Linked DNA regions of Homo sapiens. The protein of the gene in region 1 interacts with the protein of each later gene in a pairwise test. Each region holds a gene or a part of one and is shown in the gene's direction. Other genes may lie near its edges. The genes, in order: KHDRBS2, ZNF497, SULT1A4 and DOCK2.

Region 1 (7,835 bases):
CGATTGAACCCTTTTGTGCATGAAAGTATAGTAGAATGAATAAGCAGAAAAGCTCTAGAAAGAGAATGCCTGGGTTCTAAATCCTAGTTCTCCCACTTACTAGATGTTATTATATTTCATCAATTTAAGGATTCATGTTTTTCACATTTTGACATCTCAAAGTGATTGTCTTCTTGACATACATGGCATAGTCATAATTTAACTCAGTGTTTTCTCTCATAGTGTTAAGATAAAATAATTGTGTATCTCATAATGAATGAGATAAACAATAAGTTAAAATGTTGACCTTGGATATGTTATGTAATTATATGTTACAATTTAATTAATACAATAATCACTTAGAGACTTACAATAAAACATTAAATGTATTACATGTAAAGACATTTACAACTGTATCGGATATTTAGTAAGTGCTCGATACTATATATTTGTTATTGCTTGAAAATTAAAGATTGGTCATACCAAATGCCCACAAAAAAAAAGAAAATAGCTTTACAAAATAGAAAATCTTATTAATAAGAGAACTTTGCATAACATGAGTTAACAATTCCTAATTTGAATTGTTATGAAATTATTACTTTATGAAGTTATTTAATTACACTTATATTCAAAAAGATGATGTCTAGAATATTTTAAGCTCTATAATTTGTTGAAAGTGTATTTAATTAAAACAATTTACATTTCAATAATCCTATCTATGATAACTCTAATTTTCCAATAATAATGTATACCAGAGAACAAAGCATTACATCTATATATTGTAATAATAATTTATTTTGCATAATTGATGAATGAAAATATATGACATCTCTAACACACATCACCACTATATGTTGCAGTGAGTGCAGTCACTGAAAAACGAAACATCGGGGTAAATTTTGAAGGCTTTTGTTTACCACGTTGAGAACGAATACATAGAACTAATAGAGTTTGTTAAAGAGGAGAGTAGTCATATTTGTTTATGCGAAAGACTACTCAATTATCACTGTGGTTGATGCAGAAGAGTTACAGTGATTGAGAGAGAGAGAGAGAGAGAGAGACAGAGACAGAGAAACCGTCTTATGGCAGGGGAGCCAATGAGAAAACAATTCCATCATCCAAGGCAGATAAAAATGAGCAGCATTTGGAATAGACAGGGATAGGGCCAGATTAGAGATTAACATTTATATGAATTAATGCCAATTAAACGTTGGAGAAGAAGAGTTCCCCAAGAGAAAGATAAATTTTTGGTGTCTAGCCTGGTGAGAAATTGATGATATCATTAACTAAGAGTAGGTGAAGGATCAAATTAAATGAAGAATATAATTATTCTTGTAAATAATCTGAGCTCTGTGGATTGCTGGTGTGACCTTGGGCAGGTGACTTGTTCTCTCCATGCCTTAATATCTCAATGTATTTTTAAAAAACTTAGAACTGCCCACATGACAAGCTTGTCAAGATGCTTAAATTGGAGTATTCATTTAAGGCAGTGGTTCCCAAATTGGCCTGTATTTTGGAATCACTGGGAGCTCCCTGTCTCCAGAGATTGTGGTTTAATTGGCCTAGGGTATGGCCTGGAATTTGGAATTTTCAAAAGATCCTCAAGTAACTTTAACATGCAGGCAAGTTAAGAAACTTCTGATATAAGGAACACAAGCCAAGATATGGCATTATGTTAGGAAGAAAACAGATTATAGCCATCATCAGAGGTAGGGATTGCAGGGTGCAACCATGAGATCGAGGATAGAAACTGGGGACATCCAGATTCCAAAGTGGGTCCAGGAATACAAGCCAGTGAAGGAGGATAACGAATAAGGAGGAATGAGGAAAAGTAGAGAAAAGCAGAGTCATAAAAGTCCAAAGAAACATTTTCCAGATAATAGTCCACAATCTTAAAAATAGTAGAAAGGTGCTGTGGCATGGAGACTGTAAAGAAATCTAGTGGATTTGGAAATCAGTAGGCTACTGGTGATCTCAGCCAAGAGCATTTTCAACAGAGGGGTGAAAGCAAGAACTAGACTGATAACATTCAGTTCAGGAATGTAGAGGAAGTAAAGAATTAAACAGAAAATATTCTTTCAGCAAGTCAGACAAATAAACGACAGGATACTGTGGTGTGGTTTTAGCCAGGGGCAGTATCCTAAAAAAAGTGATTTGAATTAAATTGGAGGAGAGAACAATGAGGTTAATATTCCAGGGAAAGAACATAGTGGATAAGAGGTAATGAGTCAGGTTCAGGAGGCAGGTTTGCTAGGGCTGTGTCTGGTAGTCAGTTGATGAAGGAAGAAAATGGAAAATTAGATTTGATATGAGCATCATATAATATTAGAGCAGAAGGAAGTACTATAAATTTAGAAATCTGCATTTTACTCATTAGAAAAAAAAATATCTATCTTAAGCCTAGGTAGTTATAATACTTACCCATGACTATTCAAGGGTATAGCGAAGGCTCGTGAATAGAGTAGGGTGACCATATAATTTATTGCCCACACATGGATATTTTTGAGAGTGTTAAAATGCTAAACTGAACAGGAAGCTAGGACAACAGTTATAAAACCTGGACATATGCTCATCTTGCTTATGAGGAAACAGAAATGTGCTTGGAGGAGCAGTGAAGGCAAAATTGGTTTTTACATCCCTTTATGTATTATCATGGTAATACAGAATACTGTATTCTTAGCCATGTTGTACTTGCAGCCAGCACTGGGCCTCTGGGTCTTTGTGTTTCACCTTCTCCCAATCTAGGAGAGTATTCTTTATACATTAGACTCACAATAAATTCTCTCATCATTTCTCTATTCATCAGCTCTGTAATCTATTTAAAAATTTTAAAGGTTTTGCCAGCATTCGTACCCTTCACTTATAAATGCTCACTTTTATTTTAAGCAAGAAAGAGCCATCTGACTGCTATTCATAGCAGACAGCATAACCTATGTCCCCATATGTGCCTACAGCCAAATACTGTGATTGTTGACATCTCAATGATCATCATTTTTTTCCCCAAAGCTTTAGTGTTCCCACTGAAAGCAGTGCTATCTAGAGGCCAACCTTTCAGACAAAATAAAAAGTGAAATAACTGTTCTTTTGCCCAAAGACTTCAGACAAACACTCAACCATTCTAAAGGCTTCAAAATGCCATAAAAATTGGCCACAACCATTTGATCTTACACTTTTAGTGCAAGTCAATTTTGTATCAAGAACTGCAATACAGAGTATTCAGTCTGTTATTTTTATTACAGATACTAAAGTATTCCTCTAACACCATAGTTATGGTTAAGAAAATATATTCTGTCAGGGACTGCACCAGTTCAGGGGGTTACAGGCATGATGATAAATCAGTGACAAAGAGTTGTGATTTCAAGTAATCTCAAACTTAAGCAGCTATAGTAAACAGAATGATATCACTATGGTTAGATTCCCACATTTTATTTAAGTGCAGCCACCTTTTTTTTTGGTAAATGACAGCATTGTCCATCACTATCTGTAATCCCCAGCATAAAGGAGATGCAGACATCTGAAACCGCTCAGTTTCAGAGATGGTCCAGTGAGTCATATATCAGACGATGCTCTGATTTGTGTCTTCTTCGAGAATTTGGAATTTAATGGGGTTATATTCAGAGTGGGTTTTTGTTTGGGTTTTTTTTTTTTTTCTGGCTTTGGGTTTTTAGTTATATAAAAGACAATAACAAAGTATTTTACATGGTTTTTATAAGAACTAATCATAGTCAGTGTTTACAATTATTGTCTTCTATAGATATCAACACACTTTATATCTTATATAATTTCTATTAAATGCATACACACACACACACACAGAGAGAGAGAGAGAAATTTGTATTTATTTCATTGTATGGAGGCTGTGAGATGAAAACTTTTTCTGTGATAGGCCCTTTTCTCTCATCACCTGTTTCTCATCTATACATGACTTGTTTCTCTTAGGGGCCGTGGGGGTGCCATTCCTCCTCCCCCACCACCTGGACGAGGTGTTCTCACCCCTCGGGGAAGCACTGTAACCCGTGGAGCGCTTCCAGTGCCACCTGTAGCAAGAGGTGTCCCTACCCCTCGAGCCCGGGGGGCACCAACAGTGCCAGGATACAGGGCACCTCCTCCTCCAGCCCATGAAGCTTATGAAGAATATGTAAGTACTCTTAAGAAATAAGTTGTAAGGATGAGTTAAATTGATTAGTTAACAAGCTACGTCTCAAACTGTTCATATACCGTGAATATAGCAGGTAATGTTTGTTGCAGAAACGAATGTCATTTACAACAGAATTTAAGCAGTGCATTTAAATGAGAGCATTTTGAGAAAAGGTTTCATTTTACAGGTGTCATCACTGTTAGTGCTAGTTAAAGAGCTTGTATTTTAAGAACCAAACTTATCCTTAGGAAGTTTGATCAGATTTCAAATGAGAAATAATTATAAACAAAAGGTGAATTGCCATGTATTCAGAGATTTCTGGAACTTGACAAAGATTAGCATAAAACTCAGAAATATTTAACAAATATAATATGATTATATTATAAACTTTGGGAGTATTGTAAGACCGTGTGGCTGGTCTTTCATTTATATATCCTGACTCTTTCTTTCACCATATTAAAGATGTGGATTGGCATAAAAAATTCAAAAAAATATACAATGAATAGACAAAATGCAGTGTTTCCAAGCATCCCCCTCCCTTCCTATCTACTGTATCTTTTGGTCATCTTATGTATCTAAACATCTTTTAACCTTTAGTTCTGATTGTCAGTATTCCACTAATTACATTGTGGTCCTTGTGTCCATTTCTCCGACTAGATTGTGAAATATGTAAAAAGGGAAAATTTACTAATAGTGTAACAATAGGAAGTCTTCTGTAAATGTTTTTTTTTTTATTATTATACTTTAAGTTTTAGGGTACATGTGCACAACGTGCAGGTTTGTTACATATGTTTACATATGCCATGTTGGTGTGCTGCACCCATTAACTCATCATTTACATTAGGTATATCTCCTAATGCTATCCCTCCCCGCTCCCCTCACCCCACAACAGGCCCCAGTGTGTGATGTTCCCCTTCCTGTGTCCATGTGTTCCCATTGTTCAATTCCCACCTATGAGTGAGAACATGCGGTGTTTGGTTTTTTGTCTTTGCGATAGTTTGCTGAGAATGATGGTTTCCAGCTTCATCCATGTCCCTACAAAGGACATGAACTCATCATTTTTTATGGCTGCATAGTATTCCATGGTGTATATGTGCCACGTTTTCTTAATCCAGTCTATCATTGTTGGACATTTGGGTTGGTTCCAAGTCTTTGCTATTGTGAATAGTGTCGCAATAAACATACGTGTGCATGTGTCTTTATAGCAGCATACTTTATAACCCTTTGGGTATATACCCAGTAATGGGATGGCTGGGTCAAATGGTATTTCTAGTTCTAGATCCCTGAGGAATGGCCACACCAACTTCCACAATGGTTGAACTAGTTTACAGTCGCACCAACAGTGTAAAAGTGTTCCTACTTCTCCACATCCTCTCCAGCACCTGTTGTTTCCTGACTTTTTAATGATTGCCATTCTAACTGGTGTGAGATGGTATCTCATTGTGGTTTTGATTTGCGTTTCCTTGATGGCCAATGATGATGAGCATTTTTTCATGTGTCTTTTGGCTGCATAAATGTCTTCTTTTGAGAAGTGTCTGTTCATATCCTTTGCCCACTTGTTGATGGGGTTGTTTTTTTCTTGTAAATTTGTTGGAGTTCATTGTAGATTCTGGATATTAGCCCTTAGTCAGATGAGTAGGTTGTGAAAATTTTCTCCCATTCTGTCAGTTGCCTGTTCACTCTGATGGTAGTTTCTTTTGCTGTGCAGAAGCTCTTTAGTTTAATTAGGTCCCATTTGTCAATTTTGGCTTTTGTTGCCATTGCTTTTGGTGTTTTAGACATGAAGTCCTTGCCCATGCCTATGTCCTGAATGGTAATGCCTAGGTTTTCTTCTAGGGTTTTTATGGTATTAGGTCTAACATTTAAGTCTTTAATCCATCTCGAATTAATTTTTGTATAAGGTGTAAGGAAGGGATCCAGTTTCAGCTTTCTACATATGGCTAGCGAGTTTTCCCAGCACCATTTATTAAATAGGGAATCCTTTCCCCATTGCTTGTTTTTCTCAGGTTTGTCAAAGATCAGATAGTTGTAGATATGTGGCATTATTTCTTAGGACTCTGTTCTGTTCCATTGGTCTGTATCTCTGTTTTGGTACCAGTACCATGCTGTTTTGGTTACTGTAGCCTTGTAGTATAGTTTGAAGTCAGGTAGCATGATGCATCCAGCTTTGTTCTTTTGGCTTAGGATTGACTTGGCAATGCAGGCTCTTTTTTGGTTCCATATGAACTTTAAAGTAGTTTTTTCCAATTCTGTGAATAAAGTCATTGGTAGCTTGATGGGGATGGCATTGAATCTATAAATTACCTTGGACAGTATGGCCATTTTCATGATATTGAGTCTTCCTACCCATGAGCATGGAATGTTCTTCCATTTGTTTGTATCCTCTTTTATTTCATTGAGCAGTGGTTTGTAGTTCTCCTTGAAGAGGTCCTTCACATCCCTTGTAAGTTGGATTCCTAGGTATTTTATTCTCTTTGAAGCAATTGTGAATGGGAGTTCACTCATGATTTGGCTCTCTGTTTGTCTGTTATTGGTGTATACGAATGCTTGTGATTTTTGCACATTGATTTTGTATCTTGAGACTTTGCTGAAGTTGCTTATTAGCTTAAGGAGATTTTGGACTGAGACAATGGGGTTTTCTAGATATACAATCATGTCATCTGCAAACAGGGACAATTTGACTTCCTTTTTTCATGATTGAATACCCTTTATTTCCTTCTCCTTCCTGACTGCCCTGGCCAGAACTTCCAACACTATGTTGAATAGGAGTGGTGAGAGAGGGCATCCCTGTCTTGTGCCAGTTTTCAAAGGGAATACTTCCAGTTTTTGCCCATTCAGTATGATATTGGCTGTGGTTTTGTCATAGACAGGTCTTATTATTTTGAGATATATCCCATCAATACCTAATTTATTGAGAGTTTTTAGCGTAAAGTGTTGTTGAATTTTGTCACAGGCCTTTTCTGCAACTATTGAGATAATCATGTGGTTTTTGTCGTTGGTTCTGTTTATATGCTGGGTTATGTTTATTGATTTGCTTATGTTGAACCAGTCTTGCATCCCAAAAACAGTCCAGGACCAGACAGATTCACAGCCGAATTTTACCAGAGGTACAAGGAGGAGCTGGTACCATTCCTTCTGAAACTATTCCAGTCAGTAGAAAAAGAGGGAATCCTTCCTAACTCATTTTATGAGGCCAGCATCATCCTGATACCAAAGCCTGGCAGAGACACAACAAAAAAAGAGAATTTTAGACCAATATCCCTGATGAACATCGATGCAAAAATCCTCAGTAAAATACTGGCAAATGGAATCCAGCAGCACATCAAAAAGCTTATCCACCATGGTCTTCTGTAAATATTAAATTTAACTGATGCAAGCCAGATCATTGTACTATGAAAATGATTTATTTTGCCTTTAACCTCTCCAGCATGTCCATCTCCTGATCTAGGTATTTGTTTCATTCAACTATCCATAAACATGCTGTCCTCTTCAATGTCTTATGTAAATTATTGCTCATTTAAATGTAAACTCTTCAAATATAGTTACTGTCACATACTGGGCACTCAAAACATATGGACTGGTTAATAATCAAAATTTAACTATAAAATAAAGTAAACATAGTTTATAGCTAATCCTAAGAGTATATTAATTTTTAGCATGTATTCCTTTTAGGAATAATGTTACTAAGTGTAAAAATCCACTTCTACTTGAACAGGTG
Region 2 (6,730 bases), on another chromosome or scaffold:
CTCTTACAGACTTATCTGTTCTGGACATTTCACATAAATGGAATAACATAATATGAAGTCTTTTGTGTCTGAATTTTTTCATTTACACTTAGCATAATATTTTCAAGATTCATCCATCTTGTAGTATGTATCAGTATTTATTCTCTTTTTTTTTTTTTTGAGACAGAGTCTCACTTTGTCACCCAGGCTGGAGTGCAGTGGCGCGATCTCGGCTCACTGCAACCTCCACCTCCCGGGTTCAAGCAGTTCTCTGCCTCAGCCTCCCGAGTAGCTGGGATTACAGGCGCCTGCCACCACGCCTGGCTAATTTTTGTATTTTTAGTAGAGACGGGGTTTCACCATGTTGGCCAGGCTGGTCTTGGAATTGCTGACCTCGTGATCCACCCACCTCGGCCTCCCAAAGTGCTAGGACTACAGCCGTCAGCCACCGCACTTGGCCTAACTTAAATTTTTAAAACACTTCCTGGAGGGGACAAACAGGACCCATCTGCTGGTCTGACTCTGGGTGTCCTGTTCACAGTCTCTGTCTTAGTTGTTCTGTGTGTGGGATGAAGGGTGCCAAGGAGACAGGGCAGGGCAGGGACCCTCAAGAAAAGCGGGGAGGCGGGGGGAAGGGATGGTACAAGCAGCCATGGCACCTCAGTGTGTCCCTCAGGCACCTGGACACACAGGTGGGCAAAGATGCTGACACTGGGGGCCAGAAACGCCGATACCCCCATTCTTCCATTTTTACTCAGTCTCAGGTGGTCCCAAGGAGGGGACCTTCGTGGCCTTGCTGTGCTCACAGGCTCACCTTTGTGTTTCCAGCTGCAGAGAAAGTACCCTGGGCCATGCAGCTGCACTCCCCTCCCAGGAAAGGGGCAGGATGGCTGCCCAGATGAGTGAGGCATCAGCCCTGGCCCCCCAGGTCTTCCCGAGTCCACTGGAACTGATGGTGGGTGAGCCCAGCTCCAAGAGCCCTGGCCAGTGCTTCTGGGGGTTCTGCTATGAGAAGGCAGCAGGGCCCCGAGGGGCCCTGGCTCAGCTGCGTGAGCTGTGTTGCCAGTGGCTGATGCCTGAGGCCTGCTCCAAGGAGCAGATGCTGGAGCTCTTGGTGCTGGAGCAGTTATTGGGCACACTGCTCCCAGAGATCCAGGCCTACACGCAGGAGCAGTGGCTAGGCAGCCCTGAGGAGGCCACTGCCCTGGCAGAGCGGCTACAGCAGGAGTCAGCTGGGCCAGGACTCCAGATGAGTGGGGGCTGGTCTGGGGGCTGGGTGTGCTTCCCCTGCTCACGACCCCAGCTGAGCCAGCACTGGGGCCAGTCGTGGGTTGGTGGCTGAGAGGGCCTGGGGGCTGTGGGAAAGTGATGGTGACAGGTGGGAGTTTGGTGGTCTTGGCTTGGACGGCAGAGTCAGAGATCTCCAGTCCACACCTGTGTGCTCCGCATTGTGTCCTGAGAACTGAAGGTGCAGAGAAGGGTGGGTCATGCCACCGCATGCCCCTTGTTTTCTCAGATCTGCTAGGCTGAACACCTCACCCTGCCCTGCTGCCTTCCTGTCCCCAGGTGCCAGCCCCCAGGCCCCAAGAGGAGCTGGTCCCCAGGACAGAGGAGGGAGAGGAGCAAGAGGCTCCCCTGGGCCCCTTCCAGGCCCCACCTCCAGGTATGGCACCATCTACACACTTGTCCCTGCCCTGCCTTGGCAGCGGGGCTGGAGACTACACAAGGATGATAAGGTGCTCAGGGCAAATGAGGATGGGTTTTGCTCGCTGTAGAGACTTCGCTGTGGGAAGGATCGGCTGGACAGGCAGGCATGGCCTTAGGACCAAGGAGGCCCTCCCACCCTTGGCCTCTCTCTCTCTCAGGGATCTGGGCTGCACAGCCACCCCATGCCTTGGACCACCTGGTCTGACCTGCACAGAGGCCTGGTGTGGACATTGCCTGGGTAACAGCCACTGAGATCCTCCAGCCTGGACATGCTGCCCATACTGTGTGGAGGGGACTACCCAGGGATCCGGCCAGGGTGGAGTGGGTGAGGCAGACATAGCTGTGTTTGGGTCAGGCGGTGTCCTCCAGCCTTCAGGAATGGAGACGGGTCCATCGTGTTCCTCACAAACTGGAGTCTCCACCTTCTTGACACTTGGGGCCCCACCCTGTGAAGCAAGGAGAGGAGAGTGGTGCCACAGTAGGGCCAGTGCAGGTGCGTGGGCAACTTTGAGTCCTTCTGCGATGCTGGCGCCCCCTCCCCTCCTGCTGGGCCGGGCCGGGTGTGGGGATGTGCACGTGGCCCTGTCAGGCAGGCCCAGAGTGCTGGCCCATCCCCCGAGTGTCTAGCCCGCCTGCTGGCCTTCCTGCTCCAGGCTCCAGAGGGCATTGGGCATCCAGGGACCTGGAGGAGAAGAGTGGGGGATGACAGCCCACCCACCGTCGTGTCCCCCTCAGGCCCTCTGTCTGGTGTTCTTTGTATTCTCTAAGGTACTTGCCTTTTCTCTCCTGTTTTAGGTCACAGGCGCGAGATGGAGTCCCCAAGAGGGTGGACCCTGCAGGTGGCCCCAGAGGAAGGCCAGGTCCTCTGCAATGTGAAGACTGCCACGAGGGGCCTCTCTGAGGGGGCTGTGTCTGGAGGCTGGGGGGCCTGGGAAAACTCCACGGAGGTTCCGAGGGAGGCAGGGGACGGCCAGCGGCAGCAAGCCACACTGGGGGCGGCGGACGAACAGGGAGGCCCCGGCAGGGAGCTGGGCCCCGCAGACGGTGGGCGGGACGGGGCTGGGCCCAGGAGCGAGCCTGCAGACCGGGCGTTGCGCCCTTCGCCTCTCCCAGAGGAGCCGGGCTGCCGGTGCGGGGAGTGCGGCAAGGCGTTCAGCCAGGGCTCTTACTTGCTGCAGCATCGGCGCGTGCACACAGGCGAGAAGCCGTACACGTGCCCCGAGTGCGGCAAGGCCTTCGCCTGGAGCTCCAACCTCAGCCAGCACCAGCGCATCCACAGCGGCGAGAAGCCCTACGCTTGCAGGGAGTGCGGCAAGGCCTTCCGCGCGCACTCGCAGCTCATCCACCACCAGGAGACACACAGCGGCCTGAAGCCCTTCCGCTGCCCGGACTGCGGCAAGTCCTTCGGCCGAAGCACCACGCTGGTGCAGCACCGACGCACGCACACGGGCGAGAAGCCCTACGAGTGCCCGGAGTGCGGCAAGGCCTTCAGCTGGAACTCCAATTTCCTGGAGCACCGGCGCGTGCACACGGGCGCGCGGCCGCACGCCTGCCGGGACTGTGGCAAGGCCTTCAGCCAGAGCTCCAACCTGGCCGAGCACCTGAAGATCCACGCGGGCGCACGGCCACACGCCTGTCCCGACTGCGGCAAGGCCTTCGTGCGTGTGGCGGGGCTGCGGCAGCACCGGCGCACGCACAGCAGCGAGAAGCCCTTCCCCTGCGCCGAGTGCGGAAAGGCTTTCCGCGAGAGCTCGCAGCTCCTGCAGCACCAGCGCACGCACACTGGTGAGCGGCCCTTCGAGTGCGCCGAGTGCGGCCAGGCTTTCGTCATGGGCTCCTACCTGGCGGAGCACCGGCGCGTGCACACGGGCGAGAAGCCTCATGCGTGCGCCCAGTGCGGCAAGGCCTTCAGCCAGCGCTCCAACCTACTGAGCCACCGGCGCACGCACTCGGGCGCCAAGCCCTTCGCCTGCGCCGACTGCGGCAAGGCCTTCCGCGGCAGTTCCGGCCTGGCGCACCACCGGCTTTCGCACACGGGAGAGCGACCCTTCGCCTGCGCAGAATGCGGCAAGGCCTTCCGCGGCAGCTCCGAGCTGCGCCAGCACCAGCGCCTGCACTCTGGCGAGAGGCCGTTCGTCTGCGCCCACTGCAGCAAGGCCTTCGTGCGCAAGTCGGAGCTCTTAAGCCACCGGCGCACGCACACGGGCGAGAGGCCCTACGCTTGCGGCGAGTGCGGGAAGCCTTTCAGCCACCGTTGCAACCTCAACGAGCACCAGAAGCGGCACGGGGGCCGCGCTGCGCCCTGACCCGAGGACGCCCTGAGCGGGAGGTCGCGGACACACGGCATTGCGGGGTCTCGGGCGTGAGTGCGCTGTCTGCTGGCCCAGACTTTTTCGGGCCGCCGGTGCGGGCGCCCTCCTGCTGGGAGTGCAGGGGCGGCCTTGGGTGTGGAGAACCCTGGCTGCACAGTCCCTTTGACGATAGTCCACCGGCCACCCAGGCCTGTCTGGGGACATGTAGGATGGGCTCTTACCCCAGGGAGGGCGGCAGGCTCCACTTCGGCGAGAGGTTCGTCCATGCAGAGGTGGGCAAGAACTGGGGTCTCCGACAGGTGTGGCTATTTCTTTGAGTTCTCTGGCACTGTCAAAAGCAGCCAACCCACCCCCCAGTCCACATGGTCACCACTGCTGCTACCAGCTGCTCAGTGCAGTGGCCACTGTGTCTCCTAAGGTGCTCGCTTCAGTCAGCACTTCATCTCAGGCAACCACAGGTGACAGTTAAACATGATGAAACCGCATGCTATGGCTTTCTAGTGTCTCATATTCTGTTGGCAAGAAGCTCAGCACTGCATTCCTGACCGAGGTCAGAACCAGATCAATCTCAGAATCTCACCTGTGTAGGTCTGTTTCATGGGACTTTTCTTTTTTGGGGGAGGGGGCAGGGTTTCACTCTGTCACCCAGGCTGGAGTGCAGTGGTGCAATCACTGTTTATTGCAGCCGCGACTTCTTAGGCTCAGGTGATCCTCCCACCTCAGCCTCCCAAGCAGCTGGGATGACAGACTTGCGTCACTACACCTGGCTAATTTTAAAATTTTTTGTAAGGACAGTGTCTCACCATGTTGCCTAGGCGGGTCTCAAAACTCCTGGGCTCAAGTGATCCTCCTGCCTCAGCCTCCCAAAGCGTTGGGATTATAGGCGTGAGCCACCGCACCTGGCCAGGGAACCTTCTTTATACCAAGTACCACACCAGTCAGAGTCAAGTCAGGAAATAGAAACCACACTAGGTATTTCAAACAGAGGGGATATAAGTTAGGGACTGATTGTGCAGGTTTTGCAAGGCTCAGAGAGCAAAAGTGGATGTTGCAGAATCTCAGAGCTGGATACTTGCAGGAAGCTGCTACCACCCTTAGGGCTGGAGAACCCAGGGAAGCTAAGAGGAGGGTGCAACGAGGCTGGTGTTGGGACTGCCAAAGGAAACACAGAATGACAGCTCCATCTCTGCAGACCTCAGATTTGACCAGGCCTCTGGCTGCCTGGGCAGCCTCATTGCCAATGGGCTGAAAGGTTCTGTCACTGTTCAGTGGTCTGACTTCTGAGTTCTGTGCACACCCTGAGCTCTGCTCCTCTGGCCTGGCCACCAGTCCTTGTCTGAGTGCCCCAGGTCTGGTTATGACTTCAGGCCTCAGCACCTGGTTGTCTCTTCTGCAAAGAATGCATTCTCCCCCAGTCCACCCAGAACACACAGCCTCCATCCAGGTACTGGCTCTGAGCAGGACAGAGAGCATGCAGCAGGTGCTCAGCAATATGGAAATGGGACCAAACAGAGGGAGTCTCCACAGCTCCCCGTCCCTCACAGCAGAAGCCAGAGCCGCTGCAGTGCCCAGCTGGTCTTCATCACGTCTATGAGCTCTGCAATCGCTCTGCAGTCGCCTCAACTCCTGGTCTCCTCTGCTCCTTCTCACTGCACCCGCATCTCCCATGTTTGCACTGGCTGTTCCCTCTGCCTGGAATGCTCCTTGCCCAGTTATCCCACTGTCTTCTTTGCATCTGGCACACAGTAGATGCTCAATAAATGCCTGTGGAATGAATGAGTGGGGAGGATGCAGTGCAGGGGGCAGATGAGGGCTAGGCGGTTGCCCTGGGCCCTCACACTCGTAGCGGAGCTAGGCTGGGACACCCAGGGTGGGGACCAGACCTCCCCGGGTGGGAATGACAGGATGTCCATGGAGGCTGAGTGTGAAAGCACCACGGTCTCACCCCTGTCCTGTTCCATCCCAACAGGCTGTGGTGAGGAGAGGGGGAGGCAGGGGAAGCGGGAGGCCTGGCCTCCAGGCAGCAGGCTATAGCCACATGAGTGACCACCAGCAGCTCAGGTAACTGAGCACATGTCACGGGTAGGCCTGGGAAGCGCAGGTCTCAGCTGAATGACCTGGGTGGAAATCCGACTCCAGAGCCGTGGTGGGTCACACCATGCAGAATGAACCAGTGATGGAGAAGGAACCACAGTCCTCAGGAAGAGTGAGGGTGCACCTCCAGACAGCCCATGTGAGGGCAACCGCAGAAAGTCTGAAAAGAGGTGAACCCCACCTTTGGTGTCACATGTGCAGTGTGGTGTGACAGGGAGGGGCTCGCTGGGCTTCAGCCCCGGCACTCTCCACTTGACCTCAGCAGCTCCAGGTAGAGTGGGGAGAACTCAGCGTCTCCTTCTAGAACAGGTTCTAGGATCCATCACTGAAATGAGGATGAGGTGGTTTTAACATCATTTTATCACTCTTGATTTAGTTTATTAATCATACATGATTATTGATTATAATTGTTGCTGGGCATCCTGAGGCCTCAGAAGTTCACCCTTTGCCCTGACCCCATGGGGGCCCTGCCCCCGCCTTCCGGGAAGGACAAACACGGGAAGAGGTCAGTGCCCGAGCCACCCCACCGCCCTCCCTTGGGGCCTCATTGCTGCAGACGCTCACCCCAGACACTCACTGCACCGGAGTGAGCGCGACCATCATGTCCATGCTCGTGGTCTTTCTCTTGCTGTGGGGTG
Region 3 (8,696 bases), on another chromosome or scaffold:
TAAGGCGTACGTCAACGCAGTACTTCCGCCCTCAAGCAGCCGGGCTTTCCAGCGGTCCAGGCTTTTCGCGCTTGCCATGTGTCAGCCAATCAGAGCCTGAGGAAGGTGGGACTCGGGCGGAGCCGATGCTGAATGGTACGCGCTCGCCGACTGGACAGCAGTCTGGCTTCCGCGGTCGGACTTCTACACCCGCCTCCAGACAGGAGAGGGGCACGTACCGGCGCTACGGCTTCCTGCAGGCTGCCTCCGGATAGTCCCCGAGAGCTTGTTCCGAAGCAAGCACCCTGCAGCCCTAGCGATCCAGCCCTCCCCTGGACCCTAGGTCACGGCAATCAACCCCCTGCTGTGGTTCCCGAACCCCAAGGCCCGATGGGTCCCGCGGGGGTCGCGGCGAGGCCAGGGCGCTTTTTCGGCGTCTACCTGCTCTACTGCCTGAACCCCCGGTACCGGGGCCGCGTCTACGTGGGGTTCACTGTCAACACTGCTCGTCGGGTCCAGCAGCACAATGGGGGCCGCAAAAAAGGCGGGGCCTGGCGGACCAGCGGGCGAGGGCCCTGGTGAGAGGGGGAGGCCTTCTGTGCCGGGAGGAAGGCGTCCCAGAGGAGGCGGACCCCGCGGGGCACAGGCCTGTTGAGAAGGACCGGCCAGGACTGTGACAGAGGCGGGGCGTCTGTGGTGGGGACGGGGCCTGTCGCAGGGGAGGAGCGTGACGGGGAGGCGGTGCCCGGGGCATCTCCGCGGCGGAACTCAGGGAAGGAGCTAGCTGGGGCGGGGGTGATGATCCAGGCTGGGTTCCAGCATAGGGCTCTTGGTGGGCACGCTGGGGTCGGGTGGAATGCAGGAGAGAGAGGAGGTGGGACAGGTGGGTACCTGGGCTGGAGGCAGGGCCTGAGGTGGGCAGGTGCAGAGGGCTGCACTTCTCGGCTGAAGCCGGGAATGAGGACCCCGCTCTCGGGTGGGATTGGAGGGGACCCGCGGCTGAGGCGCTGGGCTGCGACAGGGACATCACGGTTCTCCTCCTCAGGGAGATGGTGCTCGTCGTGCACGGCTTCCCGTCCTCCGTGGCCGCCCTTCGGGTAAGGAAGGAGACCGGGCAGCGGCGGCCGGGTGAGGGCTTGGGTTCCGCCCCTCGCTCCGAGCCGCCCTGATGCCCCTGTACGCCGCCCGCAGTTTGAGTGGGCTTGGCAGCACCCGCACGCCTCGCGCCGCCTGGCGCACGTGGGGCCTCGCCTGCGAGGAGAGACAGCCTTCGCTTTCCACCTGCGCGTGCTGGCGCACATGCTGCGCGCACCGCCCTGGGCTCGCCTCCCGCTCACGCTGCGCTGGGTGCGCCCAGACCTCCGCCAGGACCTCTGCCTCCCGCCGCCGCCGCACGTGCCTCTGGCCTTCGGGCCTCCACCGCCCCAGGCCCCGGCCCCAAGGCGCCGCGCAGGTCCCTTTGATGACGCGGAGCCTGAGCCAGACCAGGGGGATCCAGGGGCCTGCTGCTCCCTGTGCGCCCAGACCATCCAGGTGAGGTCCCCCCGAGGAATGGATGGCTCTAGAGTCCAGACGACTTCGGATCCAGCTCTTTCTTGAGGGAAACCCACTGACACGCTTTGGCCACCCTATCCCCATCTCTAAGATGCTGATGCTATAGGACTTACGGCCATTCCTGAGCAAAGCAGGCCCTGCTCAGGGCCTTCACCATTTCCCCTTCAAAGAAAAGGTTCTTCCCTAGGCCATCAGTACTCCGCTGCACTCCAGTGTGGTCGACAGAGCATGACCCTCTTTTTTTTTTTTTTTTTTTTGAGATGGAGTCTAGCTCTGTCGCCCAGGCTAGAGTGCAGTGGCGCGATCTCTGCTCACTGCAAGCTCCGCCTCCTGGGTTCACGCCATTCTCCTGCCTCAGCCTCCCGAGTAGCTGGGACTACAGGCGCCCGCCACCACGCCTGGTTAATTTTTTGTATTTTTAGTAGAGACGGGGTTTCACCGTGTTAGCCAGGATGGTCTCGATGTCCTAGCCTCGTGATCCGCCCGCCTCAGCCTCCCAAAGTGCTGGGATTACAGGCATGAGCCACCGCGCCCGGCCCTTTTTTTTTTTTTAGACAGAGTCTTGCTCTGTTGCGGAGGCTGGAGTGCAGTGATCTCAGCTCACTGGAAGCTCCGCCTCCTGGGTTCAAGCGATTCTCCTATCTCAACCTCCCAAGTGTGCCACCACACCTGCCGAATGTTTGTGTTTTTAGTAGGGATGGGGTTCGCCATGTTGGGCAGGCTGGTCTCAAACTCCTGACCTCAAGTGATCTGCCCGCCTCGGCCTCCCAGAGTGCTGGGATTATAGGCGTGAGCCACCATGCCTGGACATGACCCTGTCTCTAAAACAATGTAATGAACTGCAGCTCATTCTTGTGTGCACTTTTCTGCACCCCCTTTCCCTTAACACTTACTATTGTCTGGCATGCTACGTGTTTTCTTGATCTCATTAGCCTCTCCCACCCCAACTGCCACACTGCACTATCAGAGGGCAGCACTTATCACTGCTGTAGAACAAAGTCCTGCACTGAGCCGATGGCCCAGAAATTTTCTTTTTATTTATTTATTTATTTTTTTTTTGAGACAGAGTCTTACTCTGTCGCTCAGGCTGGAGTGTAGTGGCGCGATCTCAGCTCACTGCAACCTCTGCCTCCTGGTTTCAAGCAATTCTCCTTCCTCAGCCTCCAGAGTAGCTGGGATTACACGCGCCTGCCACCGCGCCTGGCTAATTTTTGTATTTTTAGTAGAGATGGGGTTTCAACCATGTTGGCCAGGCTGGTCTCAAACTCCTGACCTCAGGTGATCCTGCCCACCTAAGCCTCCCAAAATGCTGGTATTACAGGCATGAGCCACCGTGCCCGGCCTAAATATTTAATAAAATAATGGACGATGGGTGCCTTCTACTGAGCTCCCGGTAATTGTGAGTGAGTAGAGGACTTGCCCTGGGGACATTCAGTGACCTGCTGGGTGTTGCTGAGCTGTGAGGAAGTTCAGGTCTGGCTGCAGTGGTGAGGCTGTGACTCAATCAATCACTGCTGATGCTCCCAGGACCTGCACCAGCTTAGTCCTAGGGGCAAGGATTTTAACTGTCCACCTCAGTTTCTTCATTTGTAAGATGCAAATAACAGTCACCCCTGCCTCATGGGATGGAGCTGTGTAATGCCCGCAACAGTGCCTGCTGCATAGAGGGGTTGCTGCCAGCTGCCTCTCCCTCCTTGTCTCTTACCTGCCTGCTGCCTGGGTCAGGATGAAGAGGGGCCCTTGTGTTGCCCCCACCCTGGCTGCCTGCTAAGGGCCCATGTGATCTGCCTGGCAGAGGAGTTTCTTCAGGAAGAACCAGGGCAGCTTCTGCCCCTAGAGGGCCAATGCCCTTGGTGAGTGCAGTCCCCTGGCCCCAGCCTGGTCCACCTCTGGGAAGAGGGTGCCCAGTTGTGCAATCCAGGCCCAGGCAGCTGAGCCCTCATCTCAGCATCCAGGGCGGATACTGGAGGGGGCTTGTGGCATCTGACTCTGTATCTCCTACCTGCCCCTCTCCTTGGTAGCTGTGAGAAGTCACTGCTTTGGGGAGACCTGATCTGGCTGTGCCAGATGGACACTGAGAAAGAAGTAGAAGACTCAGAATTAGAAGAGGTGAGTGGGCTTTGGTGGCGGGCTCCCTACCCCACTCCCTGCCCTGGGCTGCCTGTGACCACACTGCTTGCCTCTGCAGGCACACTGGACAGACCTGCTGGAGACCTGATCCTCAGTGTCCTTACCCCCTCCTACCTCTTTTCTGTGCCACCTGCTGTGGGTCCAGCAGGTTTTTACTTGAGTACAATAAAAAGTCTGAGTCAAGGGTGCCTTATGGTGGATGCTGAGGGGAGGGGCGGAGCTAGTAGCCCAAGGTCCTGCCAGTCACGGGGCTTCCTCAGGGGCACAGAGGAGGCAGGAGGGGCCCCTGGCCCTAGCACGTGAACAGCTTCTACTCTGCCTGGAAACCCCATGCCTCAGCTTTCCCCTACTTGCCTCTGAGCTCATGCAATTCTTGGAAGCCTGGGAGACTTACCTTGAAATTGAATGCAAATAGGACAAAGACCAAGGAGGATGGGGGGATGCCCTCCTTCCACGGGGCCCTGTGGCTTCCAAGTCTTAATCTCCTCTAGTCTCTTGTCTACGGAGCCTCCTTCAAACCCAGGGAAAGAAAAGCACCTGCCAGGGTTGTTTTTCTTCTAGGATCTTCTATTGATGCTCTGTGAGGTCCCCCAGGAGCCATGAAGCTAGGGCTGGCTCCTAGGGCAATGGGACTACAGTGTCCTTGTCCTTTCTTATTCTTTCTGTTCTTTCTTTCTTTCTTTTTTTTTTTTTTTTTTTTTTTTTGAGACAGAGTCTCACTCTGTTGCCCAGGCTGGAGTGCAGTGGTGTGATCTTGGCTCACTGAAACCTCCGCCTCCTGGGTTCAAGTGATTCTCTTGCCTCAGCCTCCTGAGTAGCTAGGATTACAGGTGCCCGCCATCATGCCCAGCTAATTTTTGTATTTTTAGTAGAGACAGGGTTTCACCATGTTGGCCAGCTTGGTCTCGAACTCCTGACCTCAGGTGATCCTGCTGCATCGACCTCCCAAAGTACTGGGATTACAGGCGTGAGCCACCACGCTCAGCCTCTTTCTTGTTCTATATGTCCATGCTCTGCTCCACTTCTGCCCCTTCACTCTGCCCCCACACATCACTCCAGACTGGCCTTGTGGTCAGAGCCTGGAATGCCTGGGCTGCTGGGGGCCTGTGGACTGCACTGGGCCAGAACCCCTGCCGCCTTCAAGACTGGCCTGTAGCCAGCAGGTAGGTGACTTTTCCCAGGCCGGCCTATCCCACCTTTCCCCTCCACTCACTCACCTCCCTTGCCTGGGTCAATTAGAGAAAGCTTGTCGGCCAGGCATGGTGGCTCATGCCTGTAATCTCAGCACTTTGGGAGGCCGAGGCGGGCGGATCATCTGAGCTCAGGAGTTTGAGACCAGCCTGGCCAACATGGCAAAACCCCGTCTCTACTAAAAATACAAAAATTAACCGGATGTGGTGGTGTGCACCTGTAATCCCAGCTACTCGGGAGGCTGAGGCAGAAGAATCGCTTGAACCCAGGAGGGGGAGGTTACAGTGAGCGGAGATCGTGCTACTGCATTGCAGCCTGGGCGAGAGAGCGAGTCTCCATCTCATATAAAAAAAAGAAAAAGAAAGAAAGAAAGCTTGTCTGTTGGCCTGCCCTGCAGGGTGGAGTTCAGAGGGAAGGTCAGGAGCCTAGTGACAGCTCAAAAAAAAAAAAACCCAAATACCAATGTTGGCCCCTTTTGCCTTTCATTCATGTGTTTTCTATACACTAAACTCACATATTGGGTTTGCAGATCACTCCAAGCTTGGCTGGAGCTGTGGTGGTAAGGAGGGTAATAGAGAAGCTTCCCCACCCTCAACCCCACCCCTTCCTTCCTGGAGTTCCCAGCCCTGACTTTAGATCCCTCCCACACTGGACCTTCAAAACCCTCAGGGCAGAGAGCAGCCCTACACTCCCTACACCACACCCATACTCAGCCCCTGCAGGCAAGGAGAGAACAGGTCAGGTTCCCGAGAGCTCAGGTGAGTGACACGTTGGAATGGCCCAGGGCACCTTCACCCTGCTCAGCTTGTGGCTCCAACATTCTAGAAGCCGAGGCCTCTGCCATCCCTGCCCTTTCCCATGGATATTCCATTTCAATTAGACAACCCAGCCTGGCCGGAATCCCCCTGCGTTCCTTCTTTTCCTTTGTGTATTTTTGAGACAGGGTGTTGCTCCGTCACCCAGGCTGGAGTGTAGTGGGATCCTGGCCCACTGCAGCCTCAAATTCCTAGGCTGAGGCAATCCTGCCGCCTCAGCCTCCTGAGTAGCTGGGGTTACAAGAGCAAGCCACCACACCCAGCTAATTTTGAAAAATATTTTTTGTAGAGGAGAGGTCTTGCTTTGTTGTCCAGGTTGGTCTCAAACTCCAGGGCTCAAGGGATCCTTTCCCGTTGGCCTCCCAAGGCTCTGGGATTACAGGCGGGAGTCACCCTGCCTGGGCCCCTCCTTTTGATGAGTCATCAGTTTTCATTCCCGCACGAGGCTCTAGCCCCTGGTACCAGCTTAGTTGCTCAATGGGCTGTGTTTGTTCTGGAGCCCAGATGGACTGTGGCCAGGCAAGTGGATCACAGACCTGGCCGGCCTGGGAGGTTTCCACATGTGAGGGGCATGAGGGGGGCTCAAGGAGGGGAGCATCGGGGAGAGGAGCGCACTGGGTGGAGGCTGGGGGTCCCAGCAGGAAATGGTGAGACAAAGGGCGCTGGCTGGCAGGGAGACAGCACAGGCAGGCCCTAGAGCTTCCTCAGCACAGCTGGACTCTCCTGGAGACCTTCACACACCCTGATATCTGGGCCCCGCGCTACGAGGGTGCTTTCACTGGTCTGCACTATGCCCCAGGCCCTGGGATTTTGAACAGCTCTGCAGGTGACTGAAAGGTGCGGCCAGGCTGGGGAACGACCTGGTTTCAGCCCCAGCCCCGCCACTGACTGACTTTGTGAGTGCGGGCAAGTCACTCAGCCTCCCTAGGCCTCAGTGACTTCCCTGAAAGCAAAAACTCTGCAAAGGGGCAGCTGGGTGCTGGCTCACACCTGTAATCCCAGCACTTTGGGAGGCTGAGGTAGACAAATCACTTGAGGCCAGGAGTTCTAGACCAGCCTGGCCAACATGGTGAAACCCCATCTCTACTAAAGAAAAAAAAAAATTAGCTGAGCATGGTTGTACATGCTTGTAATCCCAGCTACTTGGGATGCCGAGGCGGGAGGATTGCTTGAACCCAAGAGGTGGAGTTTGCAGTGAGCTGAGATTGTGCCACACTGCACTCCAGCTTGGGTGAGAGTGAGACTCCATCTCAAAAAAAAAAAAAAAAAGAGAGAATCCCACTTTCTTGCTGTTGTGATGGTGGTAAGGGAACGGGCCTGGCTCTGGCCCCTGATGCAGGAACATGGAGCTGATCCAGGACACCTCCCGCCCGCCACTGGAGTACGTGAAGGGGGTCCCGCTCATCAAGTACTTTGCAGAGGCACTGGGGCCCCTGCAGAGCTTCCAAGCCCGACCTGATGACCTGCTCATCAACACCTACCCCAAGTCTGGTAAGTGAGGAGGGCCACCCACCCTCTCCCAGGCGGCAGTCCCCACCTTGGTCAGCAAGGTCGTGCCCTCAGCCTGCTCACCTCCTATCTCCCTCCCTCTCCAGGCACCACCTGGGTGAGCCAGATACTGGACATGATCTACCAGGGCGGCGACCTAGAGAAGTGTAACCGGGCTCCCATCTACGTACGGGTGCCCTTCCTTGAGGTCAATGATCCAGGGGAACCCTCAGGTGCATGGCTGGGTCCTGGGGGTAAGGGAAGTGGAGGAAGACAGGGCTGGGGCTTCAGCTCACCAGACCTTCCCTGACCCACTACTCAGGGCTGGAGACTCTGAAAGACACACCGCCCCCACGGCTCATCAAGTCACACCTGCCCCTGGCTCTGCTCCCTCAGACTCTGTTGGATCAGAAGGTCAAGGTGAGGCCGGGCTCAATGGTTCACACCTGTCATCCCAGTTTGAGACTGAGGAGGGAGGATCCCTTGAAGGCGAGAGATGGAGACCAGCCTGGGCAACATTGCTGTAGAGATGACATCCCATCTCTACAAAAATAAAATTAACAACCTGGTATGGTGGCATAGACTGTTCCCAGTTACTTAGGAGGCTCAGCGGGGAGGACTGTTTATGCAAATAGGAAGCTGCAATGAGCCCTGATGATCCTGCTGCTGCACTCCAGCCTGGGCAACACAGCAAAACCATCTCTACGAAAAAAAAGTTCCCACTGACTGGCAAGGAAAGCCAGGAAGGGGGGCTCAGGTGCCCTCTCAGCCATGTACCTGTTCTTCTGGAAGGGCCTCCTCGCTTCTGCCAGGCTCATCACATCTTTTTTTTTTTTGAGACAGAGTCTTGCTCTGTCACCCTGGCTGGAGTGCAGTGGCATGATCTCAGCTCACTGCAACCTCCGCCTCCCCAGTTCAAGTGATTCTCCTGCCTCAGCCTCCTGAGTAGCTGGGATTACAGGCGTGTGCTACCACACCCGGCTAATTTTTGTATTCTTTTTAGTAGAGACGGGGTTTCACCATGTTGGTCAAGTGGATCTCAAACTCTTGACCTTGTGATCCTCCTGCCTCGACCTCACAAAGTGCTGGAATTACAGGCGTGAGCCACCGCGCCTGGCCCTTTTTTTTTTTGAGACAGTTTCACTCTTGTTGCCGAGGCTAGAGCGCAATCGTGTGATCTCGGTTCACTGCAACCACCGCCTCCTGGGTTCAAGCAATTCTCCTGCTTCAGCCTCCCAAGGAGCTGGGATTACAGGTACCTGCCACCACGCCCGGCTAATTTTGTATTTTTAGTAGAGATGGGGTTTCACCATGTTGGTCAGGCTGGTCTTGAACTCCTGACCTCAGGTGATCTGGCCACCTTGGCCTCCCAAAGTGCCGGGATTAGAGGCATGAGCCACCACGCCCAGCCTTCATCACATCTTGAGAGAGGACACTGTCTGCCTCTTGCTCTGATGAGGGTCTGATGCAAGGATAGTGAGTCTCTACAGTGCACACTTAAGAAAGGCAGCATGTGGGTGCTCACAGGTCAGCGGAGGA
Region 4 (7,835 bases), on another chromosome or scaffold:
CTATAGTTCCAGCTACTCAGGAGGCTGAGGCATGACAATCACTTGAACCTGGGAGGCGGAGGTTGCAGTGAGCTGAGATTGCACCACTGCACTCCAGCCTAGGTGACAGTGCGAGACTCCTTCTCAGAAAAAAAAAAATTCATACGTTAAATGTATTAAAATAACATTTCCTGGTCAAATGTGAGAAACTTGAGAACAAATATAGAAGTTAAAGGCTTCCTTATGTCAAGTTCTTAGAGCCCTTGAGATGTAAATGTGCTCTGCAGACCTGCAAAAGGAAATAAGAATGCAGAGCACGTCCCAAAACTCGTTGACTACCGAGCATTTTCCTTTTTCCTAGTGTCATATCCTGGGGCTAGGATTCTGTTGAACATATTTTAGAAATTCTTTGTTTTAGCCAAAGCAGGTGGGAGGCTTGATGGATCAATGTGATTGTGAACAACATATGAGAATATATTATGTTTCTCTTCATGAAATATCTAACTCAATTCTGAGGCCAGTCATGAACATACTGGAGGGACATAGAGTGACAGAAAAACTTCTTTAGCTCTAGTTTATAGCAGAAGTCACCATCTGTAAGAGCTTAGGGTCCTTGGAGGCACCTCTCTGAATCTGAAATGACCCCCTAGCATGTGTCTGGTGGTATTGTCAGCCAGTGGAAATGGAGGCCAGGTGGGTGAGCACCCTGGTTCCCTTGATCACCCTTCCTTGGTGCAGGATGTAACCAAAGTGGAATTGTCAAATAGTCCTCTTGTGGGTGGTGCCCAGTTCATCAAGCTGCACCATTCTACTCAGCAATGAGGAGTGACAGAGCTTGCAAGCCAATGTGAGCCTATCACAGGCTGTATAATGCCTGAAAGATGCCCTTTTGGAATAATTCCTTGACAGAAGTGACATTAACTACAAATATTACATTACCAGATCGTCACACTAAGCAGAAAGGAATAACCTGCATTGGAATAAGGATTTGGAATTAATTCAGTGAACACTGCAGCTTGATCATAGCTTCAGATATCTCTGCCTTATCATTAGCAGCATTCTTTATTCCCCCCGGGCTCTGACTCCAAACACAAGATGCACACTTGACTTCCTTTTCAGTGAGAGCTATTCAAACCCCAGCGGTTCTCCACTTATTACACATATTATTACTTTGCTCAGTGTGTCTCCCCATACCCAATGCCTTCGAATTGATGACCCGGTCAACTCTGTGGTCAGAAAGTTAATGTACCAGGTCAGGTTTCCCTTCTCTGTTCTCTCTTGCACCTCAGTTGTATCTCCTTGCTAGCCCTTGTCACAGGGCTGTTACACATTGCCCCATGTGTAACACGGAACAATGAGCTCTTTGAGTGTGAGGACTCTGCCTTGTATCAGCATGGCCAGCACCCCACATGATTGTAGCTTCTAGTGAACATTCAACACTCAGGGAAAGAATGAATTGGCTGCAGTTACCCATGAGACCCTCAGTTCCTTTGCTCTGCCTGAAACATAGACAGGATGGTGGACCTCCTCAGGCTCAAGCCTCATTTTCTGCAACAGAAAGTGCCCCCAAGTATACATTTGTTTTGGCGTTTAATAGGCATCTGTACAGTACAAATGTATTCCTTTTTAAAATCAGTGTCCTTCTCTCAGGTAGCTAACCTTCTCCGCATTGGCCTGAATCTCAGATTGCAGAGGAGCTGTGAGACTTTGGGAGGTGGGCAGCACAGAGCCAGGCTGAAAGCATCACAATCAGTGGTACCAGTGGGTCATTCACTGGACAGGGATGCCTGGGTGACCAGTGGGTTGTTGTCTTAGCTCAGTGTCCTTGGAATCAAAAACATCTGGACATGTGTCTGATCAAGGGTGAGATGAGCCCTAGGATTTTTCCAAATATTATTGGATTAAAGCATTTTTATTAATTTGCATAAATGAGATTCCTCAAGCAAACCCCCTAACAACCATTGTTAATTTGCTAAGCCCTGCTGCAATTGCCAGAACTCCTGGAGTGTGTAAGGAAAATGTGCATTGTGCAGTTTGCAGTGCATCAAATCCTGTGCTAAAGTTATGTGACTTTTATATCAATTTGGGGAGACTCATTTTTCCTCACTATAATTTACAGACCTCTTTTCATTGGCTGGGAATGCAATTTGCCAAATGGATTACATTTGGTACTTTATTTTCTCTTCATAGCTAGTTCTTCTGTAATTTATTTACAGTTCATCAGCCTCAATGGATGGGTTGTAAATCAGCAGGCAGCTCTCTCAGTTAAATGGTCAGGCTGCTGTGGAAGTGTGTAGGGGGGTGCAGTGGGGAGGGCCCTTTAACTCATTGTGTTCTGAGCTCTGTTTCTGTCTGCTGAGGTGGCTGTCCCTATTGAAGACATGCAGAGGATCCATCTGCGATTCATGTTTCGACATCGGTCATCTCTGGAATGTGAGTACCATACTGAATGGCATCTCTGCACCTCCCCCTAAGGGGAGAAGAATGGAAGAGCTGGGTGGCCCATGTATCATTTTCTTTCCTGACCCCACAATGCTATTTCCAGCTAAAGATAAAGGAGAAAAGAACTTTGCCATGTCCTATGTGAAGCTGATGAAAGAAGATGGGACTACTCTACACGATGGATTCCATGACTTAGTTGTCCTCAAGGTACCATGAGTTGGAAGGAGCTCTGCACTGAGGGGAGTGCAGGAAGAAAGGGGGTGATGGCAAAATTGCTTAGTGGTCAACAGCAGGGACCCCAGAATCACACACACCAGAGTTTACCAACTTTGTGGCCTCTTATAAACTCTTGACTTCTCTGGGCCTCTGTTTCCTCATCTTTGTGCCCTCAGTGAATATTTGTGAAAATTATGAGACAGTGGATGTAAACATAGCAATGATGAGTACATGGAAGAACTCAATACATGGAAAAGGTTATTGTTATTTACAGAAAGGTTATTGTTAATGACTGTTATATACTCTTGACTCTGTAGGGACCTCTGTGGCATGTGTAGAGGATGTACAATAAACATTTGAGAGATGCTGCATTGTAGCTAATGGGAAAATATTAAAACCTGCAGTCCTGATCCTGCTGCTGACTAAGCCTGGACTCATCTCACATATTTTCCTGAGTCTCAGTTTCTTTTTTCTTAAGCAGTTGTGGCAATATTTATGACAACCCACTAGGATGACCCATGAAAAATGGCCATCTAAACTATAAAGGGAGTGCAGATGTCCACTATTTTTATTTTTACATTATGAGACTTGGACTGTTTTTGAGACATGGAGGAGCATTTGTCTGGTTTTTACCTGCTGCTTTTCCACATGTCCTCTTATGACAACAGAATGCATCTACTAGCACCTGGCTGGAGGCAAGTGTATGGCTGTGAGGTGGAGCAAGGTTGAGTAGCCAGCACATGGATCACACCCTTGCCCTTGGCTTTCTTAGCCTTGTAGGCTGAAATTGCCCTTTTGCCTGTGGGATGCATGGCAAACACAGCCTCGTCAAGGCTTCATCTCATAGTACTCTTGTACTCTTCTCTGAGTCTCTCTGACTTTTCCAGAAAACCCCCTTTCTTCTGTACAGCCTCTGTTTTCTCATTTATCACACATAGAATTCTTGGCTTGAAAGCCCTTCTTCCCTGACAGAATGTGAACTCCTTGGGGTCAGAGGCCTAGTTGCAGTCAATTTTCTTTTACTTACCCCCATTAGGTCCCAGTTTCCTTGACTGAGGATAATAACAGTGTCTGCTTCATATGTTTGTTATGAGGCTTAAATGAAATGAACCAAGACATATAAAACACTTGGTTTCACTCCTGGTGCGGAGTAAGATAAATGTTATCTTCTGTAATGCCTACCTCTAGTCATTCATTTTAACATGCCACTCATTTATGTGTGTATCACTCTGCTATGTATTCTATATGCATTATTCCATATTATCTGCTCAGGTATTCTAGGAAGTAGGGATGATGATTGTCTTCAGTTTACTAATGAAAAAAAAAATGAGACACAAAGAGGCAAAATAGTGTATTCAAGATAGCATAGACCTGTGAATGGCAAAACAGGGTCCAGATCCCAGCACACTCTTACTTAGTGCCTTTGCCATTAAATTCCTCTTTAAGCTAGAGTCCTTATTTTGCTGGTGAGCAGATATTATGGTCTCAAAAAAAGGATGAATTAAAATGTACTGTCTGGGAATTTTCAATTCCGTTTTTATTTTGCCATTAATGAGGTTCACAGAGCTTTCACCTGGTGGATCAACCCCCTTTCTATTAATGTGTCTTTGAATTCTTACCTGTATTGTGGAAAAACAGTCCTGCCTCACCAGCCAATGTCTATTGCTTCTCTGATGATTTTCTTCACTCTTTATGACTCTCCCCACTTCACAGTGTCTAATTTGTCTGCTGCAGGCTCTGTGTGGCATTGGGCATGGAGCCTTGGCTTGGGGCAGTAACCAAGTGTTGTTTCCAGGGGGACAGCAAGAAGATGGAGGATGCCAGCGCATACCTGACCCTTCCTTCTTATCGACACCATGTGGAAAACAAGGGGGCCACGCTGAGCAGGAGCTCCAGCAGTGTTGGGGGGCTTTCTGTCAGCTCCCGGGATGTGTTCTCCATTTCCACCCTGGTGTGCTCCACAAAGCTCACTCAGAATGGTAATCGGGTCATCAAGAGTTGTGTCTGTGGGGAGTGTGTGTGTCCGTGTGTGTGTACATGTGTGTATGTGCTTGCAGACCCAAGGAGGTCCTGATATGGACAGTTAGGCCAGTAATGATACTTCTGAATGTCTGGACTCTATTTTAGTGGGCTTGCTGGGTTTGCTGAAGTGGCGTATGAAGCCTCAACTGCTACAGGAGAATTTAGAAAAGTTGAAGATTGTGGATGGAGAGGAAGTGGTGAAGGTCAGTGGGGCTTCATTTTGATTGTATTCTTACACTAGTGACAGAACTCTCCATGTGGGTGGCTTCAGGGGAAAAACAAGGTATTGAAGGACATGGGGAAACTTTTCTTCCAACAGTAGGATACACTCTCCCGAGTTGCCTTGAGGAATCTTTATTGGGAAATCCAGGGGAGTGACTTGGTTCAATGGCACTGAATGTTGGGTGCCAGAAAACAATGGTTATGCTCAATCTCTGGAAATAGATGAGCCTGGGTGTAAATCCCAGCTCTCCCACATGCCAACTTTATGTGATAATATAAAAGTGACATAGTTCTCAGGGCTGTTATGAGCATTCAAGGTGATAATATTTAAAACTTACTCAACAGTCTCTTACACATAGTACACAACAATTAAACCAAAGCATATAAAACAAAGTTCAATAAATGGTAATTATTATTTTTGTTGTCATATGTTGATATATATGTATATGCATATATATGTATGTATGTGTGTGAGCATATATATGTGTGCATATGTATATATACATATATATATAGTAGTATGATCTGTTAGTACTACCCACAGATCATTGTTAGAAATAAAAAGTATTCTTGGTTTCTGCTGCTTGGAGAGCATTATGTATTAAAGACGGGAAAGGGAAAGACATCAGGGCTTACATTTTAAGTGAAATAAGCAGAAAACAATGCAAATGTCAGATGTATTATTGCATCCACATGGTAGTGGAGAATAGAAAGCGTCTGAAGTGCAAATCTAATTAAAGCAACCCTTCTCTCCAGCCTTATGAATTGGGACAAGTGTTTCCCAATGGTCCTGGAGATCTTGTTTCCTTGATACAGCTAGAAATTCTGAGATTAAACATCTTTATATGGTAGCTCTGTGTTTTGAGGGATTATAGGAAATATTGACCCATCCCTTAGGAGGGAGGAAAATCAAGTTTTATTTAATTGCCTCTACCTGGAGAAGCAGTGGCAGAATTTCCAGATGCCGTAAATGTATACCACTGACCCATCTACCTCGTTCAGCAATGGCAGAGTAACTCCCCAAGACACCACTTTAATAAAGTCTATAGCCTTTTGGTAGCTTGGAGAAGTCATGGAAGAGATGAGGCTTTTGTTGTCTTCCTCTTGCATTCTTTTTTCTTTTTTTTTTTTTAAAAAAGTTTGTTATTTAAATATGATATACATATGATGAAATAGATACAGAGCAGTTATCTTAAGAGTATAGCATAATGGATTTTTACACACGTAAACACCATGTGTACTCACCACCCAGAAGAGGATACAGACCACTTTTAGCATTATAGTAGATTCCCTCATACCCCTTCTCAGCCAGTAGTCCCCCGGGGTAATCACTGTCCTGACAACCATCATTGTAGATGGGTTTTTGCCTACTCTCAAATTTCATAAGAATGGAATAGTGAAGAGTGTACTTTCTGTGCCTGATGTATTTTACTGCATATAATGCTTGTGAGAATCATCCTCATTTCTGCCTGTGGAAGTAGTTTGCACTTTAGTCCAGCTGTGTAGTATTCTCTAGTGTGAACATGCCACCATCTGTGCATCCATTCTGCTGTTGATGGGCAGTTGGGTTCCTCCAACTTCTGGCTCTCGTGAGTAAAACTACTCTAGACGTTTTGAGCATGACATGTGGTGGATGTGTGCTCTCATTCTCTTATAGATAGTTAGGAGTGGGATTGCTGGTTCACCTGTACTTTGTCTTGTTTCTGAAGTAGTGCAACCTTTGTTATTTCTTCCAGTTTCTCCAGGATACTCTGGATGCCCTCTTCAACATCATGATGGAGCATTCTCAAAGTGATGAATATGACATCCTCGTCTTTGATGCCTTGGTAAGAGAGAGGGGAAAAGTGTCTAGTGACAACAGGCATTAATGTATGTCTTACTGTGAAAATACTGAGAACTCATGGCCCTCATGGCCCTCATGGCCTTTTTCATGAATTCTTTGGAGGTGTTGTAATGTTTGGCAACAAGACCAATAATGAGCTGCTATTTCCTTTTGCTTCTTGCCAGTTCATTTGAAAGCATGAGGCATTGTGGGTGAAAGGGGAATTTTAAATGCTGATGTCAGATTGACACTGGCTGAAGGTACATGAGGCTGGATATTGTGAATGATTGCTTCTGCTTTCTATGAATGTTGGGAGCTAGTCCCTGGCTAGGTTGTAAAGCACCAAAAATGTTTCTTAGCTTTCCTTTCACCTTCTTCTCCCCATTTCCTCCAACTCACTAATCATTACATTTCTCCTACCCACCCAGAACTTTTCATGATGCTGTACCATCCAGATCTTCCTTCTTTTAGTCCTCCCCTATGGTCTTTTTGTCCTCTCCCTATCTCGACTCAGATTTTCTCAGTGTTATGTCAAAATAAACACAAGAAACATCTGCATTAGGGAATCAGTGCCCAACAAAGTTTTTAAGTGTTAACCCCTTGTGTCATGGATATTTGCATTTTTAAAGAGGTTACTGAGAGACAACTGTGGCTTAATCAAGTGCTTCCCCAGAGAGTACCCTAGAATGCTAGCTCTCAGAAAAGATGTTTCATGACAAATATATACTTTGATTAATTAATTTAGGGAAGTGTTGAATGTTGCATGACCCTTTTAGAGATTCACAATGTACATAAGTATATTAAAGATTCTAAAAAGTTTTGCAATAAGAAAGTCTAATAATGATAACCTGACATTTCTCAAAACCTATTTGACCATGAAATCCTTTTCATCTTATAACACCCCACAGCACACTTCATGAAACATTTTCTTTGGGAAGATGCTACCTTAATAAAGAGAACTCATTATGTATTAGTGAGCTAATTCCTGGGCAAAGGATTTTAATGGGGGTTGAATTATGCCAGGTAAAGATGGCTTCCTGCCCTGGGTTTGCCCTGAAAATACTGCTGCCTTGCATCTTCCTCAGATTTACATAATAGGACTCATTGCAGACCGGAAATTTCAGCATTTCAA

What was found.
Region 2: the proteins of KHDRBS2 (region 1) and ZNF497 interact in binary tests that used the Homo sapiens proteins (3 or more experiments, as listed by UniProt).
Region 3: the proteins of KHDRBS2 (region 1) and SULT1A4 interact in binary tests that used the Homo sapiens proteins (3 or more experiments, as listed by UniProt).
Region 4: the proteins of KHDRBS2 (region 1) and DOCK2 interact in binary tests that used the Homo sapiens proteins (3 or more experiments, as listed by UniProt).

What each region holds. Positions count from the first base shown.
Region 1 is NC_000006.12:61,890,917-61,898,751, reverse strand, and holds part of KHDRBS2 (KH domain-containing, RNA-binding, signal transduction-associated protein 2), read left to right. Parts: intron 1-3,918; coding exon 3,919-4,117; intron 4,118-7,835. UniProt on the Homo sapiens protein: RNA-binding protein that plays a role in the regulation of alternative splicing and influences mRNA splice site selection and exon inclusion. Binds both poly(A) and poly(U) homopolymers. Phosphorylation by PTK6 inhibits its RNA-binding ability.
Region 2 is NC_000019.10:58,353,401-58,360,130, reverse strand, and holds the end of ZNF497 (zinc finger protein 497), read left to right. Parts: intron 1-1,545; 5' UTR 1,546-1,642; intron 1,643-2,481; 5' UTR 2,482-2,495; coding exon 2,496-3,992; 3' UTR 3,993-5,774; downstream 5,775-6,730. Other genes in the region: A1BG (alpha-1B-glycoprotein precursor), read left to right, coding at 6,694-6,727. UniProt on the Homo sapiens protein: May be involved in transcriptional regulation.
Region 3 is NC_000016.10:29,454,374-29,463,069, forward strand, and holds the start of SULT1A4 (sulfotransferase 1A4), read left to right. Parts: upstream 1-5,539; 5' UTR 5,540-5,612; intron 5,613-7,008; 5' UTR 7,009-7,012; coding exon 7,013-7,160; intron 7,161-7,264; coding exon 7,265-7,390; intron 7,391-7,479; coding exon 7,480-7,577; intron 7,578-8,696. Other genes in the region: BOLA2-SMG1P6 protein, read right to left, coding at 1-78; BOLA2 (bolA-like protein 2), read right to left, coding at 1-78; SLX1B (structure-specific endonuclease subunit SLX1), read left to right, coding at 370-557, 1,025-1,076, 1,171-1,512, 3,259-3,386, 3,555-3,642, 3,722-3,751. UniProt on the Homo sapiens protein: Sulfotransferase that utilizes 3'-phospho-5'-adenylyl sulfate (PAPS) as sulfonate donor to catalyze the sulfate conjugation of phenolic monoamines (neurotransmitters such as dopamine, (R)-adrenaline/epinephrine, (R)-noradrenaline/norepinephrine and serotonin) and phenolic and catechol drugs.
Region 4 is NC_000005.10:169,709,596-169,717,430, forward strand, and holds part of DOCK2 (dedicator of cytokinesis protein 2), read left to right. Parts: intron 1-2,339; coding exon 2,340-2,412; intron 2,413-2,524; coding exon 2,525-2,628; intron 2,629-4,432; coding exon 4,433-4,616; intron 4,617-4,764; coding exon 4,765-4,862; intron 4,863-6,617; coding exon 6,618-6,707; intron 6,708-7,788; coding exon 7,789-7,835. UniProt on the Homo sapiens protein: Involved in cytoskeletal rearrangements required for lymphocyte migration in response of chemokines. Activates RAC1 and RAC2, but not CDC42, by functioning as a guanine nucleotide exchange factor (GEF), which exchanges bound GDP for free GTP.